Linked DNA regions of Homo sapiens. The protein of the gene in region 1 interacts with the protein of each later gene in a pairwise test. Each region holds a gene or a part of one and is shown on either strand. Other genes may lie near its edges. The genes, in order: EMP3, SLC35H1, CLDN2 and GJA5.

What was found.
Region 2: the proteins of EMP3 (region 1) and SLC35H1 interact in binary tests that used the Homo sapiens proteins (3 or more experiments, as listed by UniProt).
Region 3: the proteins of EMP3 (region 1) and CLDN2 interact in binary tests that used the Homo sapiens proteins (3 or more experiments, as listed by UniProt).
Region 4: the proteins of EMP3 (region 1) and GJA5 interact in binary tests that used the Homo sapiens proteins (3 or more experiments, as listed by UniProt).

The regions. Positions count from the first base shown.
Region 1 is NC_000019.10:48,320,498-48,328,989, reverse strand, and holds the start of EMP3 (epithelial membrane protein 3), read right to left. Parts: upstream 3,439-8,492; 5' UTR 3,380-3,438; intron 3,000-3,379; exon of another isoform or gene 2,937-2,999; intron 2,161-2,936; 5' UTR 2,146-2,160; coding exon 2,068-2,145; intron 1,470-2,067; coding exon 1,367-1,469; intron 1-1,366. UniProt on the Homo sapiens protein: Probably involved in cell proliferation and cell-cell interactions.
Region 2 is NC_000020.11:46,346,976-46,354,486, reverse strand, and holds part of SLC35H1 (solute carrier family 35 member C2), read left to right. Parts: intron 1-2,260; coding exon 2,261-2,436; intron 2,437-3,596; coding exon 3,597-3,726; intron 3,727-3,962; coding exon 3,963-4,093; 3' UTR 4,094-7,511.
Region 3 is NC_000023.11:106,915,137-106,923,622, forward strand, and holds the start of CLDN2 (claudin-2), read left to right. Parts: upstream 1-5,265; 5' UTR 5,266-5,415; intron 5,416-8,486. UniProt on the Homo sapiens protein: Forms paracellular channels: polymerizes in tight junction strands with cation- and water-selective channels through the strands, conveying epithelial permeability in a process known as paracellular tight junction permeability.
Region 4 is NC_000001.11:147,757,486-147,764,796, forward strand, and holds the start of GJA5 (gap junction alpha-5 protein), read right to left. Parts: upstream 3,118-7,311; 5' UTR 3,014-3,117; intron 1,787-3,013; 5' UTR 1,754-1,786; coding exon 677-1,753; 3' UTR 1-676.

The DNA.
Region 1 (8,492 bases):
CCACCACAACCTGGGTAATTTTTAAATTTTTGTAGAGACAGGGTTTCCCTATGTTGTCCAGGCTGGTCTTGAACTCCTGGGCTTAAGTGATCCTTCCTCCTCAGCCTCCCAAGGTGCTGGGATTACAGGTGTGAGCCACTGTGTCTGTCTGCTTTGCAGAATTTTAATGGATTTTCTACATAAACAACATGTTTACTGGGAATAGAGACACTTTTTCCTAATTTATTTCCCATGCCCTTTATTTCTTTTTCTTGCCTTCTTGCATTGGCTACTCCAGTAAAAGGTTGAATAGAAGTGGTGAGAGCAGACCACTTCCTTTAATCTTAGTTTTGCATTAAATCTTTCACACAGAACTTTAGATAGATGCAGCTCTATTCCTTTAGAACTCCAATGCACCTGGCCCCACCCCTTTAGAACCTTAAGTGGTTTCAGCCCCATCCCCTTGGAATTTGGATGAAATGGTCCCAGGCATCCATTCAGAGCACCAGCCCCATCTCCTTAGAGCTTTGGAAAAATACTCTTGTCTTCTCAGAATCTTGGGAGATTTTTCTCTATTCTTTTTTTTTTTTTTTTTTTTTGAGACAGAATCTTGCTCTGTTGCCCAGGCTGGAGTGCAGTAGTGCAATCTCAGCTCACTGCAACCTCCACCTCCTGGGTTCAAGCGATTCTTCTGCCTCAGCCTCCCAAGTAGCTGGGACTACAGGCGCACGCCACCATGCCCGGCTAATTTTTTTGTATTTTTAGTAGAGACGGGGTTTCATCATCTTGGCCAGGCTGGTCTCGAACTCCTGGCCTCGTGATCTACCCGCCTTGGCCTCCCCTCTCTATTCTTTAAACCTATAGCATGCTTTTATCTATATGGCCTCTTCAGAACAGGAGGTACTGGCTGGATGTGGTGGCTCACGCCTGTAATCTCAGCACTTTGGGAGGCTGAAGCAGGTGGATTAGCTGAAGTCAGAAGTTCAAGACCAGCCTGGCCAACATGGTGAAACCTGTCTCTACTAAAAATGCAAAATTAGCCAGGCGTGGTGGCACACACCTGCAGTCCCAGCTACTCGGGAGGCTGAGGCAGGAGAATTGCTCGGACCCCGGAGGGAGAGGTTGCAGTGAGCCAAGATTGCGCCACTGCACTCCAGCCTGGGCAACCAGAGGAAAACTCGGTCTCAAAAAACAAAAACAAAAAAAACAAGAGGTAGGTACATCCAGACAGGCGGGACATGCATTAGCCCTAGGCACTCAGCCACTCAGGCCTGGACCCCGCCCACTCCAACTTTGTTGGGGGAGGGTTCCCAATTCTCAGTCCCATGAGGACACGAAGGGTTTACCTTCCCCTTTGAAGACCAGTCCCGCCGCCCTCACCCCTCACCATTCTCGCTGACATTACTGCAGGCCCATGTTTTGGTGTCGTTGTTCCACGTGCAGTCGTACCAGAGATTCAGGGACTCTTTCCCAGGGAGAGTCCACCAGGACTGGGATGGACAGAGAACGAAACAAGGGGCAGGGTTAGGAAAGGAGAGGGGATAGGGTCAGGCAGACTGTGGGAAGGGCTGGGAAAAGGGCAGGGTATCTGGGATGGGGCAGAACTGGGGAGAGTTAGGATTTAATATGAGAGGGGGTAGGGTCAGGACAGGGAGGAGGCATCGGAGGTAGAGCTAAAAGGGTTAACCTGGTGGTTCATGCCTGTAATCCCAGCACTGTGGGAGGCCGAGGCAGGTGGATCACTTGAGGCCAGGGGTTCGAGACCAGCCTGGGCAACATGGTGAAACCCCGTCTCTACCAAAATAAAAAAATTAGCCGGGCTTGGTGGCAGGTGCCTCTAATCCCAGCTACTTGGGGGGCTGAGACAGGAGAATCGCTTGAACCCGGGAGGCCGAGGTTGCAGTGAGCCGAGATCGCACCACTGCACTCCAGCCTGGGGGACAGAGTGAGACCCTTGTCTCAAAATAAATGAAATAAAATAAAAAAGAAATACTAGGTAAAGGGGGTGGGGCCAGAATGCCTTTAGAGGAGGGGCGTGGCAAGATTCCAAAGGGGAACAGAAGGGCCCTGAGCTCCAAGTAGGCTTACCTTGTCCAAAGTGGCCACGAAAAGCAGTATAAGAATGAGGATGTGAAGGGCTGAGACCACCAGCAAGAGGAGTGACATGGCTGCAGTGGAAGCCTGGGGAGGGGGAGCAGGGGACGGAGTCTCAAGAGGTTGGCACAGGCCAGGCACACTCACGCCTATAACCCCAGCACTTTGGGAGGCCGAGGCGGGAGGATCACCTGAGGTCAGGAGATCGAGACCAGCCTGGCCAACATGGTGAAACCCCATCTCTACTAAAAATACAAAATTAGCTGGGTGTGGTGGTGCACACCTGTAATCCCAGCTACTCGGGAGGCTGAGGCAGGAGAATCACTGGAATCCAGGAGGCAAAGGTTGCAATGAGCCAAGATCATGCCATTGCACTCCAGCCTGGGTGACAGAGAAAGACTCCGTCTCAAAAAAAAAAAAAAATTTGGCATAAAGGCAGGTGAGATGTCTCCTGATGGAGGAAGGGCATGGGTGCAGACTCCTGGGTCTCTCAGGGAGGAGACCGCTGGGGCCTGGATTCCTGAGATCCCCATTGGCTGGAGGGGTGGAGAGGGCCAAAGATGGACTCTTGGGTTCCTTGAATGAGGAGGACTAGCAATGTGGCTCCTCTCTCCCCAGAACCCTGACTCTGGGTTACATACAGGCCAGATAGTGAAAATTCAAGTTGAGACCCCACCCTGCACCCCGACATCAGGATTGAGGAGCTGCCCCCAGCAACAGGCATTCTTGACTCACACCACTCCTCTCCTGGGTTGAGGGGAGGAGGGGGACCTGGTGAGTCATCTGGTGACTCATCCCCACCCCCCCCCATCTCTAAGCACCAGGGAAACCCCAGCCCCTGGCTATGTCCACGAGGTCCTCACCCCACCCTGCTGCCAGACTGGTGACTGTTGGACATCTTCTGGAGGAAATGGATAGGATTCGCGCTGGGGGGAAGAGAGGCCCAAGAAGGAGTTAGCCTCCCAGGACTCTTTGGTGCCCAGGAACAGGGGACCTAGAGGTCTCCCAGATTTGGGGTGTTCTCATGCAATGCCCTGATCTCAGGGACCCCAGAGGACAGTGGACACCGCTGAGGGAAAAACTGCAGGAAGTTTTCCAGTGGAGGGCTCTGCTGGGACCCCAAAACTTTGCCGGGCCCCACCCCTTCCCATATCCCCACCTCAAGTGCTAAGAGATCACTTATTAAATTAAAAGGATTTCCAAGAGTCAGGGACGTCTCTCCCAGCCTGGGGGTGTCCTTCCCAAACTGCTACATTCCCAAGTAAATTAAGAAGTCCCAGCCCTGAATAACGGACTGGAAACTTACCGAGAGCCGCGAAAAAAGTCAGAGCTGGAGTCGGAGTCTTGTCCCTCGCTCGGGCCTCCGTGCCCCGCCCTTCTCCTCCCTCCTTTCACCCTCCCGAGGCCCCCGCCTCTCTCACCGCCTTCCTCCCTCCCTTGCTCTCCCCTCCAATCCAGAACCCTTTCTCTCTCGCTCGCTCTCCTTCTGCGTCTCTTCTCTCCCTCCTGCCCTCACTGTCTGGGCCTCCTTCTCTCTTGCTCCCGTTTCTCTTTCTCTCCTCCTCTCAATATATACTGACCCTTTTATAAACCCACCCTCACCGCACCCAGCTGAGGTCGGCTGCCAGTGGGAGGGCCCAGGCACTCCGGTTCCTCTTTCTTTGGGCCCCCACCCAATCCCTCCAGACAGACATCATCTGGGGCTCCCTCCCAGGGTTGAGATGAGAAACTCTTGGAATGGGGTTCTTGGGGGGGGCAAGCGTCAGGGGTGGGAGGGCCCGATTCTCAGGACCCTTGAGTTTTGAGGTCTTGCCCTGGGGCCGGATGTCTGCTTTCCCTGATGGAGCTTGGAGCTGGATAGGAGTCTGGGAAAAGAGGCCAGATTTCTGTGGCATGGACTTGAGATTGGGCTGGTGAAGTTGGCCCCGTGGTGGGGGGTCAGAGGATGGGAGATGAAATTTGTGAAACTCGGCAGGGCGTTGTGGCTCACGCCTGTAATCCCAGCACTTTGGGAGGCCGAGACGGGCAGATCATCTGAGGTCAGGAGTTCGAGACCAGCCTGGCCAACATGGTGGAAACCCGTCTCTATCAAAAATACAAAAATTAGCCGGGCGTGGTGGCGGGCGACTGTAATCCCAGCTACTTGGGAGGCTGAGCCATGAGAATCGCTTGAACGCGAGAGGTGGAGGCTGCAGTGAGTTGAGTTTGCACCACTGCCTTCCAACCTGGGGGACAAAGTGAGATTCTGTCGCAAAAAAAAAACAAAACAAAACAAAAAACAAACAAACAAAAAAAAAAACCTTGTGAAACTCTGGAAGCGGGGAGGAAGCGGAAGCTAAGAATCCCAGCGCCATCATTTCCTGGTTCAGTGACCTTGAGCCAATTATTTCACCCACCTGGGCTCCAGTATCTTAGTCTATGTTGAGAGTATAATAATGCTGACAAAATACTAATACTGATAATAATAATTCTGATACTTATGCTGAATGAATAAGGTAATACTGGCACACTCACACACCTAACCTGTTCCTTCCTTCATCAAACATTTATTGAACATGTACTCTGATCTGGGAGTTAATAATGAAAACAGACATGAGCCCTGCTGGTATTATGGAGCTTGTATTCTAGTAGAGGAAGACAGACAAGAGAAAACATCAATGATGAAGATAAATCTCAGATAAGGATAAGTGACTTGAAAAATAAATACAATAGGCTGGACGTGGTGGCTCATGCCTGTAATCTCAGCACTTTGGGAGGCCAAGGCTGGAGGATCACCTGAGGTCGAGAGTTCAAGACCAGCCTGGCCAACATGGTGAAACCCTGTCTCTACTAAAAATACAAAAATTAGCCAGGCATGGTAGTGGGCGCCTGTAACCCAGCTACTCAGGAGGCTGAGACAGGAGAATTGCTTGAACCCGGGAGGCGGAGGTTGCAGTAAGCTGAAATCACGCTACTGCACTCCATCCTGGGTGACAGAGCAAGACTCCATCTTAAAGAAAAAAAAAAATAAAAGAAGAAAAGAAAAATAAATACAATAATAAATCAAACAGAGTGATGGAGATAATGACAGAGTGCAGGGAAGACTACTTGAAACAGGAAAATCAGGGAAGGCCTCTTGGAGGAGGTAACATTTGAGCTGAAGACAGGAGTCATTTGAACGCTGGGGTTGGGGAGTGGTGGGGGGGCGTCGGGGGGAGAGGAAGTGCAAAAGCTCTTAAAGCTTTTGAGAACAAGCTCAGGTTGTTTAGGGAGCAGACAGAAGGGCCAGTGTGGCTGGAGCACAGGGAGACAGAGGGAGTGGTGAGAAGGGAAATCAAAGGGTGCCCTTGAAGACTAGGGGAGGGGCTTGGATTTCATTCTAAGTGCAGTGGAAAGCCATTAGGTTTTAACAGAGTGTAGTACCAAAGATTTTTATTTTTTTTTTGAGATGGAGTCTTGCTCTGTCATCCAGGCTGGAGTGCAGTGGCATGATCTCAGCTCACTGCAACCTCCACCTCCCGGTTCAAGCGATTCTCCTGCCTCAGCCTCCTGAGTAGCTGGGATTACAGGTGCCCGCCACCACGCCCAGCCAATTTTTGTATTTTTAGTAGAGACGGGGGTTTCTCCATGTTGGCCAGGCTGGCCTCGAACTCCTGACCTCCAGTGATCTGCCTGCCTTGGCCTCCCAAAATGATGGGATTACAGGCGTAAGACACTGTGCCTGGCCCCAAAGGTTTACTGTTAACTATTATTATTAATTTTGGGGATATTAAATTAGGGTCGGGGTGATGACTACTATGTACACGAGTCTCTTGGGAGGGGACCAGGTGCCCAGAACTCTGATAAATTGAGAGCAGGGGAATTCAAATCCTGGATCCAGGGAAGGGAACTGGATGATGGGATGTCTGGGTATCTGATGGGCCAGAGCTGGGTTTGGGATAGCTGTTGGTGATTCGGGCTCCCTGAGGGGGTGAGGGATGGACAGTTCAGTGCTTGGCTGGGTACCCCAAGACCTGGAAGCTGGAATACCAGTATAGCACAGACTCTAGAGCCACACTGGTTGGACTCAAAATCCAAGCTGTTTTACTCAATGGCTGTGTAATTTTTGGCAAGTTACTAATAACTTCTCTATGCCTCAGTCTCTTCATCTGAAAAATAGAGATAATAGTAAATACATTATAGGGCAGTTCTTAGGGTAGTGCTAGTCATATCAGGCATTGGGGCTCTGAGTGGAGTCAGTACTGGGGGACCCTGATTCAGGATCTCTAGGAGTTGGGGAAGGGGCAAATTCTTGGGTCCATTGGGTCTCAAGGCTAAAGTTGGGAATCCAAAATGAGGGTCCCTGGGGGAGAATAAGTAGTCTCAAACTTAAGTGCCTGAGAGACAGAAACTGGGGTCCGCACTCAGATCCCTAAGGAAGTTGCAAAGTCTGGGTCACTGAAGGAAAAATTAGGGGCTGGGGAGACATACGTTCCTCTTGGGGAGCAGGAAAAGAGGGCTCCACTTTCTTGAGAGGACTAGGGGGAGCCAGGGGCTAGGAAGATGGAAACTTGAGCCGGGGAGGTGAAAAACACGAGTCTAGGACTCAGAATCAAGTTCCCTGAGTGGGATCGGCGCCAGGCTTGGGTACCCTGGGGATATTAGGGGGGTCCCCGCACTATGGCTATGTAGAAGGGGAAGAATCAAAGGATCTGAGGGTGGCGGCGGGATCTCCCCATCCTGGGCCTCCGAGATTATGAGCTGAGCTGAGCGTACGCAGGCCGCTTCCTCCCACAGGAAACCGCAGGCTTCGGGCACACCCAGCCTGCAGGGAGAGGCGCCCACTGCCCGCCCGCCCGGGGAGGCCCACGTGGGCAGCAGCCGCCGCCGCGGAGGGGGCGTGCCTTACAGAGCGAGTGGGTGTAACCAGAGGGGGCGTGGCCAGAAACCGGGGGGCGGTATGGAGTGCCCGAGGTCTCACCCACTTCCGCCCTCCAGCGCGCGGACGTGGTAGGCGGCCAAGCGTTTTTGGCTGCTTCCCGGGAAGCCGTTGGTCGCGCTTGCGTAGTGAACCGCTGAGGCTGTGTTGAGCGCTCCTTCTCCGCGCAACTCCCGGCTTCGACACCGCCTTCCTTCCTATGAATCCTTAATTTAACGTGGTCACAGTCAGCTTAAGACCGGCACCTCTCGGGCTCCGTCTTGTAGGACCTCGGCCTGGCTTCGAGGGCTTCCATACAGGTCACCGCAGGCTCTTTCAACTCCCGCCGCTTCCAGGCCCGCGGTACTAGTGAGACCTCAGCCTCGACCTCCCCAGGACCATTTCGACCTCCCGCAGGCCTTCAAGGCCTGAGCGCCTCCCGATTAGCCCGCCCTTCACCGCCCTTCCACCGGGCCCCTCGTAAGGCCTTCCAAACGCGACCCTCGAAGCCCGCCCCTTACGGGGAAGCCCCTCCGCTCGCTGTCTGCGAAGCCCCGTCCTGTACTGGTGTCCGTGCCCCTCCCCTCGCCGGCCCCGAAGCCCCGCCCCTCGAAGTTCTTCCCACTCACTCTCCTCACAGGTCTCAGCCCCGCCCATCACAGCTCCCTACGGCACGCCCCTCTCAGGCCTCACAGCCGTGCACCTCTCAGGGCTCCGCAGCACCGCTCCACAGGCCCTCCCGGCTCCGCCCCTTTCAGGACCTCGCCGCCCATCAGTTTTGTTTGTTTGTTTGTTTGTTTTTTGAGACGGAGTCTCGCTCTGTCGCCCAGGCTGGAGTGCAGTGGCGGGATCTCGGCTCACTGCAACCTCCGCCTCCCGGGTTCAAGCGATTCTCCTGCCCCAGCCTCCTGAGTAGCTGGGATTACAGGCACGAGCCGCCATGTCCGGCTAATTTTTTGTACTTTTAGTAGAGACGGGGTTTCACCATGTTGGCCAGGTTGGTCTCGAACTCGTGACCTCAAGTGATGCGCCCGCCTCGGCCTCCCAAAATGCTGGGATTGCAGGCGTGAGCCACCGCGCCTGGCCTTGCCCATCAGTTCTCAGTCCGTGGGAACCCTGCAGGTCTACGCCTCGCATCCTTCTCCGCCCCTCCTCCCATAGTTTCTCCCGCGGCCTCAGTCCCTCCCTGGCCGCTGTCCTCAGTCCTCATTGGTCCCTTATCTCCCCAGTAACCAGACCACAACACTGAACTTGGAGCACCAAGAACAGGTCAGGCCCGTCGGCAGGTAGGGCCCAGGACTCCCCCGACCCTGCCCAACCCCCACTACAGCAGGCCGGGGTTTCCCCCTCTCCTGCGACCAAACAGCCTGGCCTCAGATATCCTGAGAGCCCAGGAGGCCTGTCCCCTGCCAAACCCGCGCCAGAATCGGAGCCTAGACGCAAGACCCAGAGTGTGAGAGGTGGGAGGGCTGGAGAGGTGTGGGAGAGGCCTGAGAGAGGTCCCCCTCCAACCCCTCTTGGAGGAATGAGGCCAGCGTGGTTC
Region 2 (7,511 bases), on another chromosome or scaffold:
CCAGCAGCCTGGCTCCAAGTGGTCCAGCCCTACTCTTAACCACCCTATCTTGCCTCTAAGGAATGGGGAATCAGGGATTGTTCCAAGATGCTGGAGTAATCAGGCAAGTCAGAAAGGCTTCCCAGGCCGTGGTTTGGAGGGTGAGTGGGATTTTGGCAGGCTGCAGGGAGCAAGGCATCTCGGAAGTAGGAATAGGAGGTTCAGCCATGTCCAGGAATATAACCTGGGGATGTGTGTTCAAGGAGTGTGGGCCACGCAGGATCAGCAGAGGGTGGGCTTCCAGAGCTGGGGGCTGAAGACCAGGAGCCAGCACACAGGAGCCTGGGGACATGGTCAGTTGTTCCTCCACTGTCGTCCTCCAGGGATGAGGAGAGCCCTGGAGAACTGTGTAGGCTGGGAGGTGTGACGCCACCTTCCTTTCTTTGATGTTTTGGGATTAGCCTTTGTCCCCTTTCTGTTTATCCTTCCTCCCAGAGTCCCGTCTGTAATGCCCTCAGGGTCATTACAGAAAATTCTGTCCCACATCCATTTAAGTTTCAAGCAGTGAAGCGTCTTGAACCTCCCCAAGAAAATTATTCTGAAGCCCCGTTGTCCAGGAAACTTCTGTTCAGGGCCTCGTTTTTTTTCCTTCTTTAAAATCTCTCCCCACTCCTTCATTATGCCCCCTTGTACCAAACGCCACACTCTCCCTCCCCTCCCGTGTGTTTACACCATGCCCCATCTCTGCAAAACCTCATCTGAAAGCCCCTGGTAGTCGTCACTTGGCAAAGCTGCATGGATTTAGCTCCTTTAATCTTTTCTGGTAAATTAATCCCCCAAGCGCCTTCATTACTTATGCTGCTCTTCCCCGAATTCCCTTCAATTTGCCGACGCCTTTGCAGTTCTGCTGAGCCCAGCACCAAACAAGATGTCCTACACTGTGAGGCTGTTTTGCCTGGGGGGACTGTCACTCGGCATTTCTTTGGTGCTTCCCTCCAAAAATCTCAAAATACTCGTCCAGCTTCCAGCTACCACAGTTGTCTCTTGTGCCCAGTTCTGGGCCCCCCTTCACCCTGTGCTAATACACCACGAGGACTTTCGTGTGGGAGGGACGCCGGGAGTCATTCTTCCAGATGGACAGTGTTGGAGGGACCATGACTCCTCCGAAAGTCTAAGCTGAATTTGGGGTAGGGGGTGTGCATGCCTGTGTTTCTGGAGCAAGGGGCCATGTGTTTGCATTTTCTTTTTGGGAAATGTTCATCAAGTGATACCACGGGTTGGAGAAATACCAGTCTGGTCCCAGGCCTCTCATTTTATCAGTAAGGAAACTGAGGTCCAGAAAGGGGACACATCTCAGCCCAAGTCCCACAGCTCTGTACTAGCAAGACCTAGATTAAAATGAACGTTTGTAGGGATAGAATTTTGTCCCTGTTTGTAGGTGAACTGGCTGAAATGTAGACCAAGGAGTTCCCTGAGTGGGCTGGGGCACTGTTGGTCCTTCGTCACTTGGTAGCCGCCCTACCTTCTTTAGCCCAGTAGTTACCACAGCTCCAAAGACCCCATGAAGTCAGCAGCCATGAGCCCCTCCCCACAGACCAGTAAGGGAATACTGTCCAAAGGTGCAGGGCACTTCCATCCGTCTTTCCATGCAGGGCCACCCCCCTCTACTTCACCCCAGAGGCTCAGACGAGCCCTCCCCATCATTCCGCTAGGATCCCCATCATCCCACTAGGATCTCCATCATCCCGCTAGGATCTCCTTCATCCCACTGGGATCTCCTTCATCCCGCTAGGATCCCATCATCATCCCACTAGGATCCCCATCATTCCACTAGGATCCCATCGTCATCCCGCTAGGATCCCATCGTCATCCCGCTAGGATCCCATCGTCATCCCGCTAGGATCCCATCATCATCCCGCTAGGATCCCATCATCCCGCTAGGATCCCCATCATCCCGCTAGGATCCCATCATCCTGCTAGGATCCCCATCATCCCGCTAGGGTCCCATCATCCCGCTAGGATCCGCATCATCCTGCTAGGATCTGGCTTGTATTGCCCCCAGGCGCTCTGGCAGCCATCACTGCTTCCCTGGTTTCCCCAGGTCTCAGGCCATCTGTGTGGGATCACTTTATACCTTCCATGCTTTTTCTCTGGGCTGCAGACAGTTAGCAGGTCTCAGTAAGAACTCACTACTACAGTGGAAGATCTTGTGTGGTTGGCATTGGGCTGGCCAAGGCAGCCCAGGACCCGGCCTCCCACTCTCTCTCCCTGTTGCTTTCAGGTCTCCATTTGTCCACATCTGAGAAAATCTTCCGTTTCCAGGACACAGGGCTGCTCCTGCGGGTACTTGGGAGCCTCTTCCTTGGCGGGATTCTCGCCTTTGGTTTGGGCTTCTCTGAGTTCCTCCTGGTCTCCAGAACCTCCAGCCTCACTCTCTCCATTGCCGGCATTTTTAAGGTACAGACTCGGGCGTGATGCCAGTCCTGTCTTAGAGAGGGAGCCCCCAGGGGTTTCTCACCAGCAGCTTCAGTCCCAGCTCCTGCACCCCAGGGCCCTGCAGAGAAGAGAAGGAAGTGCCCCATTAGGTGCCAGGCACTTTGCTGAGTGCTGTGCTGGCCCCTCCTTCTGCCTTGACCACAGCCCTGTGAGAGGGTATGATCACTCCCATCCCACAGACAGGGACACAGATGGAGAGCCGCCCCTCCCCAAGGGCACAGCAGGGGCCTCAAAGCCAGCTCTGACTCTGCTAGGCCTGGAATGCATTCACATTTTACCTTGACTGCCAACTCTGGCACTGGGCAGTGGCCTGGAGCCACAGGTTGAACAGCCCCTATCCAGACTCATCAGGAAAGAGTTCCGTGATTGACTGGCGGTGTCCTCCAAGGCCATGGCCAGGGCTAGTGAGACCCTGAGAAAGCACCCCTGTGGCCAGCCTTGCTGTACCTCTGCCTCGCAGGCCTGTCCTTCCCTCTCATACCTCTTCTCACTTCTCCTTCTCCCTCCCACACATTTCAACAGTCCTCCCTGTTCAGGGGCAGGGAGGGACTTTTCTCTTTGGCCAGGCACACACCAGTGTTGAAGCAGTGTTGCCTAAACCCAGAAATGCAGGCCTGTCCAAGGGTCTTCTGGTGGCCAGCCGCATGCTGAGGCATGGCTGTGGTTCTTGGATGAACGGCCTTGCCAGTCCTGTTTGGAGTCTCTGTTTATAGAGAGCCCCGGGACCAGTTGTGTCTTCAGTCCGGGGTAACACAGCATTCTCACACATAGGCTCAGGGCTCTCTTCTGTGGCTGCCTTCTGGGGCAGCCGTCCTTTATCCTTGTGGATAAGGCGCGATCTGGACACCCTGGTCCCCAGCCTGGGATCTGGTTTGCCTCTTTTATTCCTGACAGAATTCCATGACAAGCACCTCCTTTGTTGCATCTCACAAAAGGAGGCTGGCGGGACAGCGCCGCAAGCCGGCCGGGTCCCCTGACCTCTCTGCCTGCCTGGGCCCAGGATTTCAGTAAGATCTTGATCTGCCCACCTGAGTGTACCTAGTGCCCCCACCTTCCACCCTCCTGGTCAAGCAGCCAAATCTGCCTGTTGATCATGCTCCCTCCTGCTTCTCTGCCCCCAGGAAGTCTGCACTTTGCTGTTGGCAGCTCATCTGCTGGGCGATCAGATCAGCCTCCTGAACTGGCTGGGCTTCGCCCTCTGCCTCTCGGGAATATCCCTCCACGTTGCCCTCAAAGCCCTGCATTCCAGAGGTAACCCAGAGTCCCTTCCAGAAGCCTCTGTTTTCTGTTCTTCTCCCTGTGACTCTTAGTGATTCTGATGCAGGAAGTGTGCCCGGTGGCTCTGCTGCCGTCACTCCTCTAGGAAGATGTGGGGGTCATCTCCAGAGTGGGTGGGTGGGGCCTGGGTGACTCAGCACACATGCAAATCAGAGCAAACCAAGAAAACCACGACTGGGCCTGTAACTGTGGTCTCTCTCTATCCCAAGGTGATGGTGGCCCCAAGGCCTTGAAGGGGCTGGGCTCCAGCCCCGACCTGGAGCTGCTGCTCCGGAGCAGCCAGCGGGAGGAAGGTGACAATGAGGAGGAGGAGTACTTTGTGGCCCAGGGGCAGCAGTGACCAGCCAGGGCAAATGGCTTAGAAGCAGGCCACTCCCCAGCCTGCTGCCAGCACTCACTGTGCTCAAGCCGCCAGGGCTCATCATGGTAGCTGGGAGCTGTGGACGGGAGTCACCAGGTGGTGGGGCCAAGCCAGGGACTCATGACTTTTGCCCCTCCCTTCAGAGCCTGGTCACACAAGGGGCGAGCACCAGGCCAGCCTGGGACTGGCCAGAGCTGGGCCCAAGCTGCGCTGGAATCGCAGCAGGAGAGGGGAGTGGGCTGGTTCTTCCCACCACTTCCCAGGCTCTGACAGCCGAGACTCATTTCCAAGGCACAGCAGCTTTCTAAAGGGACTGAGTTTGGACTGGGTTTTGGACCTCCAGGGGCTGGAGCTTCATCACCTGGGCAGTGTCTTTTCTCAGAGAGCAGGTTTCTTTATAGTTTGGAAATAAATGGTTCACGGTCCACTGGCCGCCTTGTGTTGCTGGAGACGTGGGGGCAGGGAGGGGACAGTGTGGGCCTGGCCTCTCCTTTCCTTTCCCTGCCTGGAGCCTTCTTCAAATGTCTGGTCTTAAGCCAGGCCTCCTTCATTTTCTCGCTCCTGTTAGAACACCAGTCCCCTCCCCAGTGGGGCCCCACTGCACCTGCTGGCAGGAAATAAATGAATGTTTACTGAGTACTGCATTCTGGAGACCTTACATGTTTTCACAGCCTAGTTTGAATACTGGCTTTGTCACTAGCTGTGTGACCCTAAGCAAATGACCTAACCTGTCTGTGCCGTAGTTTTTTAATCTGTGAAATGGGGATAATGTCTATCTCAGAGTCCTTTTGAAGATTGAGTCATTATTAGTAACAGATTAAATGTTATATAAGCATTTCTTTTAATCCTTTTAACAACTAAGAGACTAAAGCCTGGAAAAGATAAAGAGCTGCTTAAGTGGCCGGGCTGAGGTTCACATCCAAGTCTGTGTACGTCTGTGTGTGCACGTGCTGCACGTGACATCCACACAGCCTCCTGGAACTTCATGGGCCCCTGGGGCTTGGGCTTTCCACTCCTCCTTGGCCAAGTCCCACGTCTTCTCTAGACTGCAGGCCTCTCTCAAATGAGGAAGGGAGGGGGCAAGACCCCAGCTCTGATGTGCTGTGGACTGAGTCTACTCCTGTAAACTGGTTCCCGGGCCATGGGAGACCCCCCCGGCCCTTGGGGACAAAGCTTTCCAGGCGAAGTGCTCCTAGGCACTCACAGCAGGTGGCGCCATTGCACCACACTGGCTCCCAGAGCCCAGCTGCCCTGCCACGGCTATCCAGACACCGGCAGAAAAGGGGTGCTTGGAAGAGGACAGTGGGTATCCATGGGTGGGGACAAGGATAGGGCTTGTTCTAAAATTGTTTCCATCAGGTTGGAGTCACTAAAGCTCGTTCGGTTAAGCCCAGGAGAACTTTAATACTTTAAAAATGGGTCTGCAAACTTCCTGTAAAGGGCCAGATAGTAAATATTTGGGGTTTGGGGACCATATGGCGTCTGTTGCAGCTACTCTGCCATCGTAGCACAAAAGCAGCCATAGATGACACAGACCCAGGGTGTGGCTGTCCCAGTGAAACCCCATTTACAAAAGTAGGATCCAGCTTGCTGGCTGAAGTTTACCAGCAGGAGAACCCTCAAGAATTCTCGAGTCCAACTTCCACTTCTGCAGCAGGAGACTGAAGCCAGGAGGGGGCGGTGACTAGCCCGAGGCCCTCAGAGCCTCCGTGCTCAGGAGTCAGACCGAGATCTGCCTCTAATTCAGATTCCCAGCACAGACTCAGCAGGCGGAGGTGGAGCACCAAGGGCGCTTGGAAGCGGCCTCTTATCTGGCTCCTGCACCTCTGCCCCCCTTGGATTCCGCAAGCTCAGAGGCCAAGATTAAAGGAGGCTCGTGCTCCAGCTGGATGATGTGGGAAGAGCCAGCCAAGGAGGGGGGCCAGGGCCTCCTCCGTCTTAGAGGCTGCTTGGGATGCAGGCTGCTTGGGCGGCAGGGGGAGTCTGCCAGAGCCCCGCTGGCTCAGGTGGATGAGAGCTTCCTGTCTGCTCCCCCACTGCCCGCCTCCCAGCACAGGGAGCAAGCGTTGCTGTCTGGTGCAGTAATTACAAGGTGCAGAGCGGGGGCCCTTACCTCGCACATGTTGGGTTCAATGACAGCCCTTCATTTAGCAGCAATTACCAGCTGAACCTAAAGGAGGGCTCCCTCTCCTCCCCCACCCAGCCCACCCAATCGCCTGGCCTCCCAGGCCAGACAGCGTCCACCTCGGCATTGAGCCCTAGAACCACCCATGCTGTCTGCAGCCATTGCATCTCAGGGCTGCAGCATCACCATGGCAACGCGGTGCTTGCACAGGTTGAGGGGAAGCTGAGGATGTGACTTGTCTCTCCAAGGCTGTGGTGTCTGTCCCCACACAGCCCCAGCTCCGAGGCTTCTGCAGAAGGGGCGGAGAGAGGACTGACCTGCAGGTTCGAGTTTCAAGTGCTTACCTGCCCACCACCTCTCCCAGGGGCCCACAGTGGAAGGAAGGTTAATGGCTCCAATATGTGAGGACGTCCACAGTTGGTGTTGTGGTGGCGGTGAGAATGGGCTGCAGTTTGCCTGTGGGAGGGACCTGAGCCATCAGGCAGGGCCCGGCATACCTTCATCTTCACTCCGGTACCCTTTTCTGCCTTGAGGGCTCAAGGGATTGTCTCCATCTGTTTCTGCTTTATCCTGCTGTGAAAAACCTGAAAATCCCAGTGGCTTGAGAGTAGTTACATGGCACCAAGAGAATTCTCCTCATGGTACTTGCTGCAGCTTCCTGCATCACACACTAGTGATGGACTGAGGGTGGGGACTCCCAGGCCATCCATTTAGGTCGACAGCATTCAGTGAGTACTGGCTACATGGCAGACACTGCCGGACTTGGGGACAGAGACATTCATTTTTGGAGTCAGCCTTCCTCCCAGCCCAGGAAAGTGATGAGGCAGTGGGCTGGGGAATGGGGAAGAAAGAACAGAAAAGACCGTTCACTGGGCACCATCTAGGCCTTTGCCATAGGTTATTTAATCTGTAACAGCCCGGTGCAGTAAGGACTGATTGTATTTCTTTCCTAGCTGTGGAAACTAAGTTCCAAGTGGTTAAGCATAACGATGGCTAAGGATACAACCTGCAGACGCCGTAGAGTGAGAGACGTGTCTCTCTTTGCTGTGATTAGCTGCGTGCTTTTGGACACGTTGCTGATCTTCTCCGAGCCTGTTTCCTTGTCTCTACAGAAGGAATAATAATACATACACCTGAAGGAAGCTACTGTGAAGGTGAAATAAAATAATGTAGGTAAAGCACACAGTGCTCGGCTCATAGTCATCACCACTCAGGAAATGGAGCAGGAAGGACGTCACATAACTCGCCCAGATGAGAGGAGGAGCCAGCGTT
Region 3 (8,486 bases), on another chromosome or scaffold:
TTTCATTCAGCATAATACATTTGAGCTTCACCCATGTAGCTGTGTGTATCAATAGTACATTCCTTTTGATTGTGAAGTAGTATTCCATTACACAGATGTACCAGTTTATTCGTTCACTAGTTGAAAGACATTTAGGTCATTTCCTAAATAAGAATGTAAAGTGGTCCTGAGACCAAAATGTTGAGACCCATTGACAGAATGTGCTCTTCCCAGAGCTCTCCTCAATTGGGATTTTTGTGGACCAGTGGAATTACAAAATTTTTTAAAATGAGGGAGAATCAACATATGGTTTTCAAACTTTTAATTTTGTTAATTAAGGGCATTGAAAAATACTACCACCTCTTATTTTACAAAAGAAACCTTAATACCAACTATTCAAAGAATAAGTCCGGAATTACAAGTAGTCTTTTAAATTGAATAAGCTTTAAATAATTTACAAATCTTGCTACATTGGCCTTAGTTTTCTCCTATTGGTGATCCTCTACCACTCCCTTCCTTTCTTCTTAAGTCTGTGCATTAGTGCTTAGGAAGCCCTTGCTCAACATTTCTCCTCCTAGATCTGCTTATCCATTGCCTCTCAAACCTTTATTCTCTCTTTCCTCCCAGACATGTCTTCATGAGCCCTTCTCCTGCCTCCCCTCCCAGAACTTCTCTTCTTCACCCACCTTTCTCTTACATAATCATTTTGTCTCTCCTTCCTCTTCTCCTGGACCCCTTTCTTCCCAGACCCATCTAGTGTTTCCCTTCTTACCACAATCTCTTCTCAGTCTGATTCCATCAATTCAATGGTGCACCTACTATGTATTAGACTAGAATAGTGATGAAAATAACAATTGAAAGCCAAACCCAATGTGCACAACAAACCCCCATGACATGTTTACCTATATAACAAACCTGCACATATACCCCTGAACCTGAAATAAAAGTTGAATTAAGAAAAAAAAAAAAAAGCCAAACCCTTCAGGCATTCACAGTCCTATGCAGGAGTAGCAACAACAAATACAACCCAAGACAATTGGTGGGGGGATAACAAGATGCTTTGGGAGCATAGAGGAGGAATATCCAACCAAGAGACCCCAGGAATCAGGGAAGCAACCGTTAAGCTGAGCCCTAAAGGATAAGGAGTTTTCCAGACAAAACCAGCTGAAGGTGGAGTAGGGCCAGGGTCCACAAAGAGTTCCAGGCAGAAGGAACAGGACTTGTAAAGGCCTAGAGGGAAGGGAGAGCATTGTAGGCTTGAGAAACTGAAAGGAAGCCAGTCGGGAGAGTGGGGAGTGAGGAGAGTAGTACAAAACCAGTTTGGAGAGCTAGGTAGGGGCCAAATCATACTACTATGTGGAGAATGGACTGTAGAAAGCCAAAAGGAGAAATAGGAAAATCAGAAGGGTATTGCATCCCGGTGAGAGATGATGCTAAGGGGAGTGGAAGTCGAAACCAGCAGATGGACAAAAAAGCTAAATTTTGGAGGTAGAATGGGAAAGATTTACAGGTCTGATACAATGAGGGTCAGAGAAAGTGGAATTAAGGCTAACTCTGAGGTTTCTGGCTTAAACAATTGGCTTTCTCAAAGGGAGAAGACTGAAGGAGGACTGATTTCAGTTCAAAGGGAAATCAAGGATACAATTTTGAGGCTGGGCATAGTGGCTCACACCTGTAATCCCAGCGCTTTGAGGGGCTGAAGCAGGAGGCTGGCTTGAGCCTAGGAGTTTGAGACTAACCTGTGCAATATAGTGAGACCCCATCTCTACAAAAAAATTATAAAAATTAGCTGGGCGTGGCGGCACATGCTTGTAGTCTCAGCTACTTGGAAGGCTAAGGCAGGAGGATCCCTTCAGTCCAGGAGTTCAAGGTTATTGTGAGCTGTGATCATGCCACTTGCATTCCAGTCCAGGCAACAGAGCAAGACCCTGGACATGTTGCATTTGAGACAACTTTCAGCTATCCAAATGGAGATGCCAGTATATAAAGGTCTGAAGCCCAGAGAAGTCTGGGCTGAAAATGATGATTTGGAAGTCGTCAGATGATAGAGGATAACTGAAACCACAGAGGATAAATGAGACTTCCCAGAATGGGAATGCAGAGTGAGGAACGAGGACTTAGGTCAGGCTCCTGAGAAGTGCCCATATTTAAGGGTCTGGCAGAGGCAGAGGTACCAATGAAGAAGTACCCAGAAAGATAAGAGGGAAACCAGAGGAGTGTTGTTATCACAGAGGCCAAGAGGAGAAAGTATTTCAAGGAAGACAAGGTTATCAAGGGCATTGAATGTTGCATAGAGGTCATGGAAATTAAGGACTAAAAAGTGGCCATTGGATTTGGTGACATGCGGTCATTGGTAACTGTGACAAGAACTTCTTTTGGTGGAACAGTGAGGGTGAAATGTCTCTAAGTCTCTCTCTGCCCTAGACCCTAACTCCTTCTCCCAGAGTCCATCCCTACACCCTCTTCCTTAGAGTCTCTTACTTCTCCTTCTAGACTCCTCTTTTCATAGCATCATTTCCTCCCTGCCCTTCAAGACCTTGCTTTCTACAGAGCTCTCTTTGATTTTCTTCCTCAAAGACCCTTTTTCTCTCTTCTCCTTTTCTCTTCCCCCAAACCACCTCTTCCCATACTCTTATTTCCCTCCCTTTATTCTCTCCCTACTCACTTGTCTCCTGAACTAAATGCTGCTTTTCTCAGACTGCTATTCTTTCCTGTTCTTTCAGCCCCCTCTCCATTCCCGCACCCATCTAAGCTCTTTGGATCTCAGCAGGGGTCTTGGCAGAAGGATTACTAAAGAACCTCCTAGGCTCAACACTGAGGAGTCATAGTATTTGGCATGATTCCACCAGGATCTGACAATGCCGACCTGAAGGAAACACAGTGTTAGAACCCAGTCCTTGAATGATTGCCAATCTGGAAACCACATCCTGCCAACACAGTCTCCTCATCCGCCCTGGCACCTGCCCCTAAGATTCTGCCTTTTCCTATCCTCAATTGCACAGTCACTATGAACTGATAAGGTGCCCCTCTACTACATTCTGCATTCAATCAGCATTTTCTACTTGTCAAAATGCATTCACATTCATTCACCCAGCCTTGGGAATTCGGCTGGGTGAAGCCTGGGAAAAGAAAATGGAGAGGCTTGCCTGAGGTCACATAGTTGGTTAGAGGATTAGCCTGGTATCCCTCCCACCCCTTCAGCCTTGCTTGCTTTCATGCCCAAAGACTCCCCAGGCCTGAGCTCAGGCATGGCTGCCCTTTTAGCGTGTCCCAGCCTGCCAAGAGGGAGTGCCCTGGAGAGACCCTTGCTCAGGAGCACTGCCAGGGGATCAGTGCCCCATTTGTACCTGCAAGGTAGGGATGGGCCGCCTTGGGAAGGAGGATGATTTCTGGTTTGCTTCACTGAGTTCACCCTAGGCAACAAATCCGACTGTTTGCTTTGATATGACTTGAAAAATAGAGTCAAGCATAATGACTATGAGGCAAGCTCTAGAGGTGGCCAGGTTTGGTACCCAGGCCTTGCTCTGTACTAGCACAGTGAGACCATGGATAGGAAACACCTCAGCACAGTGCCTGGCACCTAGCAAGTGTTCAATGAACCGTGGCCTTATCATTTGTACATGGGAATCCTTGGGAGGGAGTTGGTGTTGTACACTGCAAAGTTTGCCAAGCTAGATATCTACAGACCTAGATTCCAAGTCTAACTATTACTGCTCAACTTGGGATGTTGGGCAACTCTTTTCATCTCATTGGGCCGAGGTTTCCTCATCTGGAAATAGTAATGGCTGTCTTATTTTTGTAACATGTTGTATTGGCCTTTAAAACATGCACACTCTTTCACCTAGCAATTCTATTCTTAAGACTTTGTCAGTATTATGTGCAAAGATGCTGGGTTATAGTGAAAATGAAAATAACAAAACGTCTAGTAGTTTACGATTAAATAAATCATATTTTATATGATAGAATGCAGTGCAGCCATGACAGAATGATGTAGTTCTGTGTTTTAATTGACATGGAAATAGGTCCACGATATGTTATTTACAAATGATGTAAGGTTACATAAACTGTAGGTATAGTGTGATTCAATTTTATAAAACAAATCCCATCGATATCTTCTACAATACATCAAAATGTTAGCAATGATTATTTCTGGCTGGTGGCATTATGAGGACCTCTATTTTCTTCTTTATAATTCATTTTCTGAATTCTTTTCAATAGCATCTAGTATTTTTCTACTTAGAAAAAACTAGAAAGCTTTTTTGCGTTGGGAGAGTAAAGCCAGTCACTGCGCTCTACTACTCCACAGCATGTTTTTTTGTTTGTTTGTTTTGGTTTGGTTTTATTTCTGTTGTTGTTTGGGTTTTTGTTTGTTTGCTTTGCTTTTTTGAGATGGAGTCTCACTCTGTCACCCAGGCTGGAGTGCAGTGGTATGATCTCGGCTCATTGCAACCTCCGCCTCCTGGGTCCAAGTGATTCTCCTGCCTCAGCTTCCCGTGTAGCTGGGACTACAGGTGCGCACCACCACATCCAGCTAATTTTTGTATTTTTAGTAGAGACAAGGTTTAACCGCGTTGGCCAGGCTGTTTTCGAACTCCTGACCTCAGGTGATCCACCCGCCTCGGCCTCCCAAAGTGCTGGGATTACAGGCGTGAGCCACTGCACACGGCCTTCACAGCACTTTTGAGAGGCTTAAATGACATAGTGCATGGCACTGCCATGTGTGGTAAAAAGGAGAGCCCTGTCCTTATGCTGGCCTACTCAGTTCCACCTTGTAGGACCTGCTCTTTGAACTCAGAGTCTGAACCTACAGTACCCATGTTTGCCCTTGAGCCTTGGGACCAACCTTAGGGGTGGGGTAGGGCTGAGGGCCTGCCAGAGAATCAAGCTGAGTAGAAAAGTCTATGGAGCTGCAGGCCATGCAGGGCTGCTTGGGCACTGGCTCACCAGGGCTGTGTTTATGCAGCTTACTCCCTGCTGGGCTTCAGGGCTGCTAGCCAGGGACACCTAATTGGTGGGACAGAGCCCCCTCCTCTCACCACCCTCAAAGCTGGAATGTTCTGAATTCCTTCTTGGGCCAAATCCCCCTCCCCACAAGGCCTCTCCTGGGTTCACAGAGGTCACCACACAAAAGCCCAGCTGGAGTGGAGTTTTTGACAGAAAAAAAAAAACACACACAGAAAACCCACCAAACCTTTTTTTTTTTTTTTCTAAAGTGCCTCAATCTTTCCCAGCCTCCAGGGGTTTAATTCTGATCTGTAATAAGTCTCTGACCCACGGCTCAGATTTGCAGATGGATTTTGCAAAGCTGTGGTTAACGATTAGAAATCCTTTATCACCTCAGCCCGTGGCCCCTTGTACTTCGCTCCCCTCCCTCAGGATCCCTTTCTCCCTCTCCAGGGGCATCTCCCCCTCCAAGGCTCTGCAAAGAACTGCCCTGTAAGTATCTCCATCCTGATATAGTTGCTGCCTTTTAAATTCACCGAGGTGGGCACTCTTCCTTCCTAGTCACTATCCATTCACCCCATGGTGGAGCCAGGCTGGGCCACCTTGGGTTTCTGAGTGAAGGGTATGGGAGGGGAAACTCCGGTGGCATTTGGGTTGGTGGTATTTGTTCCCTCAAAGCTATCACAAAGGTTCAAATCTTTAAAACTTCAGGACCAGAGAAAGCACTCTCCAAATCAGATATTTTCTGGTTTGGGGGCTTAAAAGGACTGGGATAAAAATTGGAGGAAGGGAGCCACAGTTTACCCCTCTGCCTAAGTGTAGGGGACTGAGGAGTGGCAGAAGGGGCACTCCCTCACAGCCAGCTCCAGTGCCCTCCTTGGCATGAAGGCTCAGGGAGGTAGCAGAAGGTGGGTTCCTAAGTGAAGTCATAAAGTTTCCCCATGAGGTCCTTCAAGGACTCTCCCTCACTGGTCTGCAAGTCTGTCATTAGAAATTCCTTCTTTCGACTGAGGTATTACTCTCTTCAAGTGCCCTCTTTGAAAATGCAGTTGGAACCAAAACATTCACAGCACTTATGGCCGGGGAGATCGTAGGCGATTTTTGTTTTCTAAATTCTGCCTTTCTGTGTTTTCCAGTGTTCTAAAGTGAGAATGCTTTACTTTGATGATCAGGACAAAAATCAACTTCTTTTTCAAACAATAAGAAAATCTCTCAATCCAGTTGCAATTCTCTGAACTGCCATCAATCAATTGATGTAGAAGGAAAGATGAACTGCTCTAAGGACAAACTTTCAAGAAAGTAGGGCCTCAAGGGAATGGCTTTGCCACCTACTAGTGCCCTTGGCAGCTGGAAGTGAGTTTCAGAGAAGGGGGCAAGTGTCTCAGATTCTTATGAGGGGCAGTGAGATCAAGGGATATAGAAATGAGGCTGACTGACAGAAGAGGGCTGTGGTGGCCATCATCACCCCCAGAAGGCCACATCAGTTCCTTCCTTGAGCCTGGGAACCCCAAGTGCCCTGTCCCATGTAGTCTTAGGAGGGTACTGCCAAAGAAAGAGTACCATGCACAAGACTCTTGGAGCAAGAGATGGGGAGAATAGCAGGGAAAGTACCTAGGTGAGAAGGGGTTAAGTCAGGAGCTGCGGTCAATCTTGACCCTCCTAATCCTCTCCTGCAGCTCCAATCTCCCCACTAGGGAAGATTAAGTAAGGATCCTAAGTTAAACTTTCTTGCCCAGTCCTTGGGCCATGGAGTATGTTGGCCCTATGCCCAGAAGACAAATTCAGCTGACAAGGCCTAGAGTCCTCTGTACCTCCAACGCAGCCAGTACTTGACTTCTAGGAGGATCCCTCAAAGAGAGGCTTCTATTAAAACTGGCTGCTTCTAATAACAGCTCTTCAGTCTTCTATATTTGTCAAAGTGGCTTCCTGTCCCCATGCCTTTATTTGAGACTAAAAATCTTGGAGATGACAAACTAGGGCCTAGAGAAGCTATAGGACTTCCTCAGCAGGTTCTAGGCAGAACTGACACAACAAGAAGCTAGATCTTTTGATTCTAACACCAGGACCCTGTCTGCCCTCACCTCTACTGCTCATCAGACAAACAAAAACCTGGCTGAATCCAGCCTGTCTCACCACCCAACCATTCGCCATTTAGCTGGTCTTCCTAACTCTGGTGGAAAGCTGAACCCCCCCTCCATGGGGCCATTTCTATCACTTGAATAAGCTCCAATAACTTGTTCTTCCTCCTGCCTGGGCATGCTGCTATGCCAAGTCAGACTCTAGAGATTCCAAGCCTCAGTAATGGCATTTTCTTGACTCTGCCCTCTCCCTCACCCCAAAACACTTGCCTACTTACTACTACTTAGGACAGGCTCTGGGGAGAGGCTTTCCTCTTGGGGACACTGTTGATTCCCTTGGGAAACTCAAGCTTGACTCTTCAGCTGCCATCCCAGGAAGGCTGAAGCAGGAGCTGCTCCTCTGGGAAGCAGTAGGTCTTCCCCTTGAAAACCTCAAGGTATCTCACCAATTCTCACTGAAAGCTCAGATACAAATAGGAGGAAGAAAGGAAAAGTATTGAACCCAGCCTGGGTGAGGAGCAGGGAGGGCCCAAGGATGGTTTCAAGGCAAGGATGCATCCTCAAAGATGATTTGCAATTATCCAAGCAAATGGTGGATGGTAGAATAGCATGCTTACGGGCTTGGAGACAGAGAGAAAGGCAGTCAGAGAAATTCAAGTGCTTAGGTTTGGCTGGATCATATGTGTATGTATAGGAGCATAAAGCATGAGGTTGGAGGTTAATGGTGTGAGATGAGGCTGTGAAGAAAAGCCGGGGTGAAATAATGGAGGGCTTTCTTGGTTTCCTGGGCTAGCAAGTTTGAACTTCATCCTGAAATACTTAAGAGCTCTGAAGATTTTTTTTTTTTTTTTTTTTTGAGACAAAGTTTTGCTCTATCGCTCAGGCTGGAGTGCAGTGGCACAATCTCGGCTCACTGCAACCTCCACCTCCCGGTTCCAGCGATTCTCCTGCCTCAGCCTCCCTAGTAGCTGGGATTACAGGCACATGCCACCACGCCCAACTAATTTTTGTATTTTTCGTAGAGACGGGGTTTCACTATGTTGGCCAGGCTGGTCTCAAACTCCTGACCTCGTGATCTGCCCGCCTCGGCCTCCCAAAGTGCTGGGATTATAGGCGTAAGCCACCGCACCCGGCTGAGCTCCTGAAGATTTTTAAGCATGGCAAAGCGTGAGGTGAAAGTCACAATTTGATTTCAACTTTACAAAGATCTTTGACTACTGGGTAGGTAATTCATTATTGCAGGATTGGGGCAGAAGTGGAATTAGAGAGATCAATTTGAGGTGTCTATGAGATTTTCAAATAGACAAGAAACGATGGTTGCATAGTCTGAACTATGGTTTAGGGCAGTGGCGACAGAAAGAAGTAGATGGATTCACAGTCTATTTTTGAAGGCAGACCTGATGGTACATTATAATTAATTATATGTCAACAAGAGGTGAAAAAGCAAGGATGACTGGCTTGGGTTATTAACTCAGTGACAGCCCC
Region 4 (7,311 bases), on another chromosome or scaffold:
CACCAAGGTGGGGCATTTGCCAGAGGTACATACCAGGGCATTTGCCAGAGGTACATACCAAGGCATTTGTAAAGCTGAGGCTGCTGGTAAAGTTCCAAGAAGCCCTTTTTAAGGCTGAGTAGAGGGAGGAGAAGCCAAGGGCAACCCAAGGCCATCTCACCACTACTCCGAGGAATGGTCCATGGAGACAACAGATTCAAGAGCACATATAATGCAAGTTCCTTGATTCATGCTGTCTATTGGCTGGGAACTTTGAGCTCTTCCTTGGAGGAGGGAGGGTGATCAGGTCAAGGAGGTAGGAACTTAGAGAACGCATTTGGTATGCTGCTGGTATGTAGAGAGAGAGTCATTCTATCCCTCTGGCTATCCCTTCCAGGCCAGCTTTTGCCATGCTTCCCTTCTTTCCCTCTACCCTGTTTCATGAGTAATCTGAAAGGCTTCGTATACTGGGTAGAGGGTGGGGAGGGAACTGCAGTCTGGGTGGGTTGTCACCTCTCTTACTATCCCAGAGCCCTGGTTATAGTTTCTAGAATTAATGAGCAACGTCATTGAGACCCGGGGCTCAAAGGAGCCAAGCAGTGATGACAGTGAGAAAGCATCAGTTCAGAAGGGACACGTCTTTCCTCTCTGAGCCTCCTTTGTTCCCACCTGGTCCTGATCCTCCCATAAAGGAGGGTCACACTGATAGGTCATCTGACCTTGCCTTGCTGCTGGCCTTACTAAGACGTCGCTTGTCACTATGATAGCCATGGGGAAGGCGGTGACCTGGTGAGACTCCATTGGGCACCTCAGGCTTCTGGCCATAACGAACCTGGATGAAACCTTCCCCAGGAGTCTGCTCCTGACCTCGTACTTGCTCGGTGACCAGGTTGTCTGTGTTTTGTTGGGAGGCCATATTATTGCTGAAGGGATTGAAGAATTTTCCCCCAGGGCCATTCTCCAGGCACTGATTAAAGTCGGGGGGTGGTGTGCAGCTCTGGACTATGCCCACAGAGGGGCCAGAAAGCTGGCACTTAGCCATGTGCTGCCGCGGTTTGACAAATCGCTGTCTGATCTTCTTCCAGCCCAGGTGGTAGAGTTCAGCCAGGCTAAGGAGGAGGGACAGTGCAGCCACAGCCAGCATAAAGACAATGAAGACATTCTTCTCTGTGGGCCGGGATACGTAACAGTTGACCGGGTGGGGACAGGGACTCCTGCGGCAGACATGCAGGGTGGTCAGGAAGATTCCGTAGATGAAGTACTGGCCCACAATGAAGCCCACCTCCATGGTGGTGCGGATCAGGATGCTGCACACATAGGTGTTGAGCAGAGTGCCCTGGAGGGCAATCCTTCCATTCCCTTCCTCCCAGCAGGACAGTTCTGCCTTCTCTGCCACCGGGTACTCGTAAGAGCCAGAGCCCCGGACCTCTTTGGCCCTCTCGGCCTCCCGTAGCTTGCGCTTCTCCTGCATGCGCACAGTGTGCATGGCGTGGCCCATGTACACCAGAGAGGGCGTGGAGACGAAGATGATCTGCAGCACCCAGTAGCGAATGTGGGAGATGGGGAAAGCCTGGTCGTAGCAGACATTCTGGCAGCCAGGCTGAATCGTATCACACCGGAAATCAGCCTGCTCATCCCCCCAGGAAGACTCAGCAGCTGTGCCCAGCACGAGCATACGGAATATGAAGAGGACAGTGAGCCAGACCTTGCCTACCACGGTCGAGTGCTTGTGTACTTCCTCCAGGAAATTTCCCAGGAAGCTCCAATCGCCCATCTTGGCACAGCCAGGGAACAGATGCCAAAACTTCTGCAAATGGGAGAGAGAGAAAGAGAGAAAAGAAGAAGGATGTTCTGTGAAGGTCTGGAATGTCTATCATGTTCTGGGATTCCACTGATCCATCCATCCAATGGGTTCTTTAAGAAAATGCAACTTAGAAGTCAAAGCAACCAACGAAAAGCTCGCTCTCCTTTCCCAGCAAAAATAAAAAGAAAGAGAAGATTCAAAGTAGCCATATTAGCAAAATTAGAGCATGGCTCCCACACTTTAACGGATCTAGAAATCGTGGTGTGTGTTACAATATGGATTCTGCTCTTGCCCCAGTAATTCTACTTCAGGAGGTCTGGGATGGCCCCCAGGAATCTGGATTTACAACAAGCAGCCCAAGTAATTCTGATGCAGGCGGTGAGGGACCGCACCTGGAGAAACACGAGTATTAAAAAGAACACAAGACTGGGGTCTGCAAATGTGACTCTGGGCATTTACCTCACTGAGTCTGTTTCTTCATTTATCGAATGGGGATGGGAATAGCTACACCAGAGAATTCTGAGGATTAAATGATATGAGGTGTGTGATATTCTGAAAATCATTCCACAACTGTTCCAAATGTTTAAATGGCTGTTGGATGGAAAAGGAATTTTTTTATGGCTCCAGAGGGCAGAACTAGGTGGAGGAGGAAAGAGTGAGGATGGGATTGGCAAATTTGGCCCCTCAGGAAGCACTCTGCAAAAATCAGAACCATCCAGCATGGACCAGCTGTGTTGGGAGGTGGCAAACAAAAAGTGTGCTTTGGTCACACCAGCTAACAGTATCACAGATGAGTGCTCACTTCCCCTGGCTGGTAAGGCAATGTTGATCTCCCATGCCTCGGTGCAACACAGCCATTCCAGCCACACAGCTCAGCTCGCCCTGCTGCTAAGTTTCTGTGTCTCATTTAAATAAGGTTCCCACACACAGATCTGCCCACCCTTATGTCCAGAATAAATGTCCCAAAACTTTATGTCCCTTACAAAATCCTCCCTCATCTGGCCTTTGTCTGCTTTTCCAGCCTGTTCCTGCCTGTCCACATGAGTTCCTTTTGTCCAGCCATGCCAAGTCTTCCCAAATGCCCTCCTTCTGTACCCCTACATGTCCCCTCACCCCTAGCTGAATCCCATTTACCTTTCAAAACTTAACCCAGTCATTGCCTCCTCCAGCCCTCCCTCCTCCCTCAAGCTGAGCCTCTTCAGCTCCTGTGATGGCCCCCGGGACACTTACTCGTCTCCCAGTGCTTGCTGCCTTGTGTTGTAATCCTCTGCCTGTCTGTGTTCTCCCAGGAGGGACTGTTTGAAAATGGAGACTGTCTTTTCTTCTGTATCACCAGAGCCTGGCCCAGAGTAGGTGTTTAATATATCTTAGTTGAGTGAATGAAGGAGGGGCTGACAGGCACTGTTGTTTCCTACCCAATAGAAAACCAATTCCCTGTTTCTTGCCTGCCTCCCATTGGCAGGGTGAAAAAGCCAGGTATCACTTTCTTAATCTCCTCTGCAGTTAGTTCTGGTAGGTGAGGTATGGGGAGAATCTAAAGTAGAGGGAATGCTCCAGAAAAGGTTTTTCTACCCCCCAGTAAATGGAGAGAGCCTCACTCACAGTGCTCCCATCCCCCTGTGAACAAGAGGGAACCTCACTCACAGTGCTCCCATCCCCTGGTGAACAGGAGGGAGACTACTCACAGTGCTCCCATCCCCCGGTGAATAGGAGTGAGCCTCACTTAGCCCCACCGCTTCCTGCCTGTGGACAGAGTTGTATGAACCAAGATGTCTAAAGCTGTCCAGAGAATCTCAGAAATGTCAACCAGTGCCCTGAGGCCTCTGAAGCAACTCTTGAGGCTCCCTACCTCCAGAATTCTTACTTAGTGAATAACGAATGTTCTTACAGTTTAAGCCTCTAACCATTCCTAACCAACAGGATGACAAACGTCTCGGAGGGAATGGAGCATAAATATTCCTTTCTTAGAATCATAAACCTCAGATTTGGGTGGGTCCTTAGAGGTTTGTCAAATTCAAACTTTGACCGTCATATCTTTGCTGCCAACGTGCTCCTGGTTTCTGTCTGAACATTCTTCATGCTTATGGGGAAAGATGGGGTCAGGGTGGTGCATTTCATAGTCCAGGCTTCCTCAGCTCTTGAGTTGATTGTTGCCTTGACAGGGACCAACCTCCTGGCCCTGTATTCTCTCAGACCCCAGGTCCCCAAACTTGAGAGTATACAGTGTCCCTGGGAATGAGGGAGTTCCTGAGTGAGCGGAAAGCATCTTATCTCTGCTCCTCTCTATATCAAAGACCCATGCAGGTCTTGAGGCCTTTCCTGTCATTTGTGATCAGACATCTGCCCCATTTCCTTAGGTGGCGAAGCGCCCCCTCTTTCAGCCTCCAAATGTGGAAAATTGTGGAGCATGTGCTCAAAAGGAAAATGGCTGATTAGATAAGAGTTTGAATTGTCTGTCCTCTCTTCTGGGCACATGTACAGTGTTCAGCACCTTCAGGGTCAGCCACACACGTGCAGTGACTGAACTATGGTAAATGTCTGAGAAAAAGAGGGAGGGAGAGAAGGGGAGGAATAAAAAGAAGAGAAGAAAAGGGAAGGACAAGGGAGAGTTGGAAATGGAGAAAAAGACCATGTAGGGTTAAGAAAAGACAGATGCAGGAGTTAGCTTACTGAGGTTTGACAAATTTCTATTACCATCTGCTGGGCTTAGATAAATGATTCAATCTGTGTTCCACTTTCCTCACCTGCAAAATGGACATACTATTAACTCATAGAGTGCTATGAGATGATGCGTGCAAAGCACTTAACACAGTGTTCAGCAAATAAGAACTGAATAAAAGGTAGCCATTACTAGCAACAAGAGCAGTGGGGAAGGATGAGAGTAGAAGAAGGAGGGAAAAAGAGAAAGCAGAAAGTAGAGAAAGGTGCATTACAAAGGAGAAAAGAAATGGGAGCAAGAGTAGAAGGGGAGGAAATGAGAGGAAAATGGAAATAGAAAAAAAAAGAAACAAATGTCATATTCTTCCAGGATTTGGGGCAAGTTTTCCACACTCAGTCCCTGAAGACTTCTCCCTTGATCTTCTCACTCTGTCACTCATTCCTTGCAAGTCCCCAAGGAAGTATAAAAATAGTTCCAGGCAAAGAATGTGACCCTTTGGTCTAGTCTGCCAAGAGGCTTGACTGCTGACTCCTTCACTGCTGTCCAAGGAATTCCACCTGGAAGAGGTAAAGCACAGATACAAGAAAGGAACACCTTGGAAAACCAGAAAGGCAGTATTAGGAAGGATATCTTATTGGGAGGGAAAAAGAGAAACTATCTGAGGAGGTATAGGGGTGAGGCAGACCTCCTGGGCCCAGGCAGAGGAAATAGGGTGAAGGGTTTTTCATGTATGACTTCCTGCTGACGCTCAGGCAAGGTCAGAGAAACTTAAAATAGCTACCATGTACCAGATGCTCAGTTTATAATGTGAAAGGTCTCTGGCTGTAGTTACTTTTCCAGCTACGTTGGCTCCCTTTGGATACCCCATCTCAGCCAAAGAAATTTGTAGATTAGATACTCAGTGAGTTTACTGGGCGTATAGCATATAAAATACTTTGTAGATTATTATCTGCTTCTTGGCAGGAAGTGTATTAGGAGGGGCAAAGGAAGCTGCCCATGCCATGAATAAATGCTATCAAACACAATGGCAATTTACCTCACTGCTTTAGCAGTTATCCTCACTGGCTTCCTACCACTTAGAAAGTCCAAACTGCTTAACTTGCCATGTGAAACCCTGTACAGTCTTATGCTATCATTTTTCCACTTTTCCACTCACACACTCAATACTTAAGCTACACAATTTCACATGTACTTATGTGCATCTCACCATTTCTCACCCATTTATCTTGGCTTCTTATGTTCCCTCTGCCTAGAATGTCCTTTTTAAAATTCATTTAATACGTTTATTGAGTGGCTACAGGGTGCCAGCCATCATTCTGGACAATGAGGATACAGCAGGAAGGAGGGGAAACAAACAAGGGATTCCCTGACTTCACTGAGTGTAACTGCCTTTATACCCCTTTATTAACAGCAGACATTAAATACATGATTTCAGTAAAACACAATGTGTGTTAACATAAAGGAAGTATAAGGTGTCATGGGAATGTGGGGCAGGAGCCTGAATCTGGTTTTTGGGTTTTGGGGAGAGTCCTAGGGAATTGCGTTCTAAAGCCCTCTGCCACTGATACAAGTTCTGAAATCAGCAAGGCAAAAAGAGATGGTCCCTAGAACCTGGAAGAGAACCATCCCAACTCTAAAGGTTCTTCACTCCCAAACCTTCAACATCCTCTTTCAACTTGTCCTATCCTGAGATAAAGCAAATTTTGGAGGGGCCACTAGGAAACTTGTTTGGCAATAGCAACATGGTGCTTAGATAAGAGGAAGAGGGCCAGAGGAAGGATTTTGTGTATAGTGAGCATGAATCATTTTATGATTTTATTTCATGTACTGTATGGCCAATGACCAGAAATAAAGCTCAGGCACCTACATTCTGAATCCAGTGCTTCTTTTTTTCTTTTTTGAGATGAAGTCTCGCTTTGTCACCCAGGCTGGAGTGCAGTGGCACCATCTCAGCTCACTGCAACCTCTGCCTCCCAGTTTCAAGCAATTCTCCCTGCCTTAGCCTCTGGAGTAGCTGGGATTACAGGTGTGTGCCACCACACCTGGTTAGTTTTTGTATTTTTAGTAGAGAAGGGGTTTCACCATGTTGGCCAGGCTGGTCTCAAATTCCTGACCTCAGTTGATCCTCCCGCCTTGGCCTCCCAAAGTGCTGGGATTACAGGCATGACCCACCATGCCCGGCCCAGTGCTCCTTCTCGTGGTCCCCCTACACGGCCAGTGTTTTTCAAAGAAAATCATTTCAGAGCAACCCAGATTAATCATAAACTCATAGCCAGAACCTCTTCCTCTGACTCCGCAAATCTACAGCAAAATGGATAAGTCTTCTAAAATTGACCTCAGCCCTCTTTGGTGTCCCCTGAACTCCAGAAGACTGAGCATCTGGTACATGGTAGCAATTTTAATTACCATCCAGCATGGAGGATACATCCTCACACTTGGTTATATATTTCCTTAGACTTGTTTTCCAAACATTTGTCTATCAGCCAACCTGCAGATACTTTGCTGAGTCCCCTTTATGTGCCTACCACTGTTCTGAGTAATGAGAACAGTACCAAAGAGGTGCAAGGCCTGACACACACTGGGCACTCAATGGTGTCTATTAAATTAATAAAATCGGCCGGGTGTGGTAGCTCATGCCTGTAATTCCAGCACTTTGGAAGGCCGAGGCGGGCAGATCATCTGAGGTCAGGAGTTTAAGACCAGCCTGGCCAACATGGTGAAACCCCATCTCTAATAAAATTCAAAAATTAGCCCAGTGTGGTGGTGGGCACCTGTAATCCCAGCTACTCAGGAGGCTGAGGCAGGAGAGTTGCTTGAATCCGGGCGGTGGAGGTTGCAATGAGCTGAGATCACGTCAGTGCACTCCAGC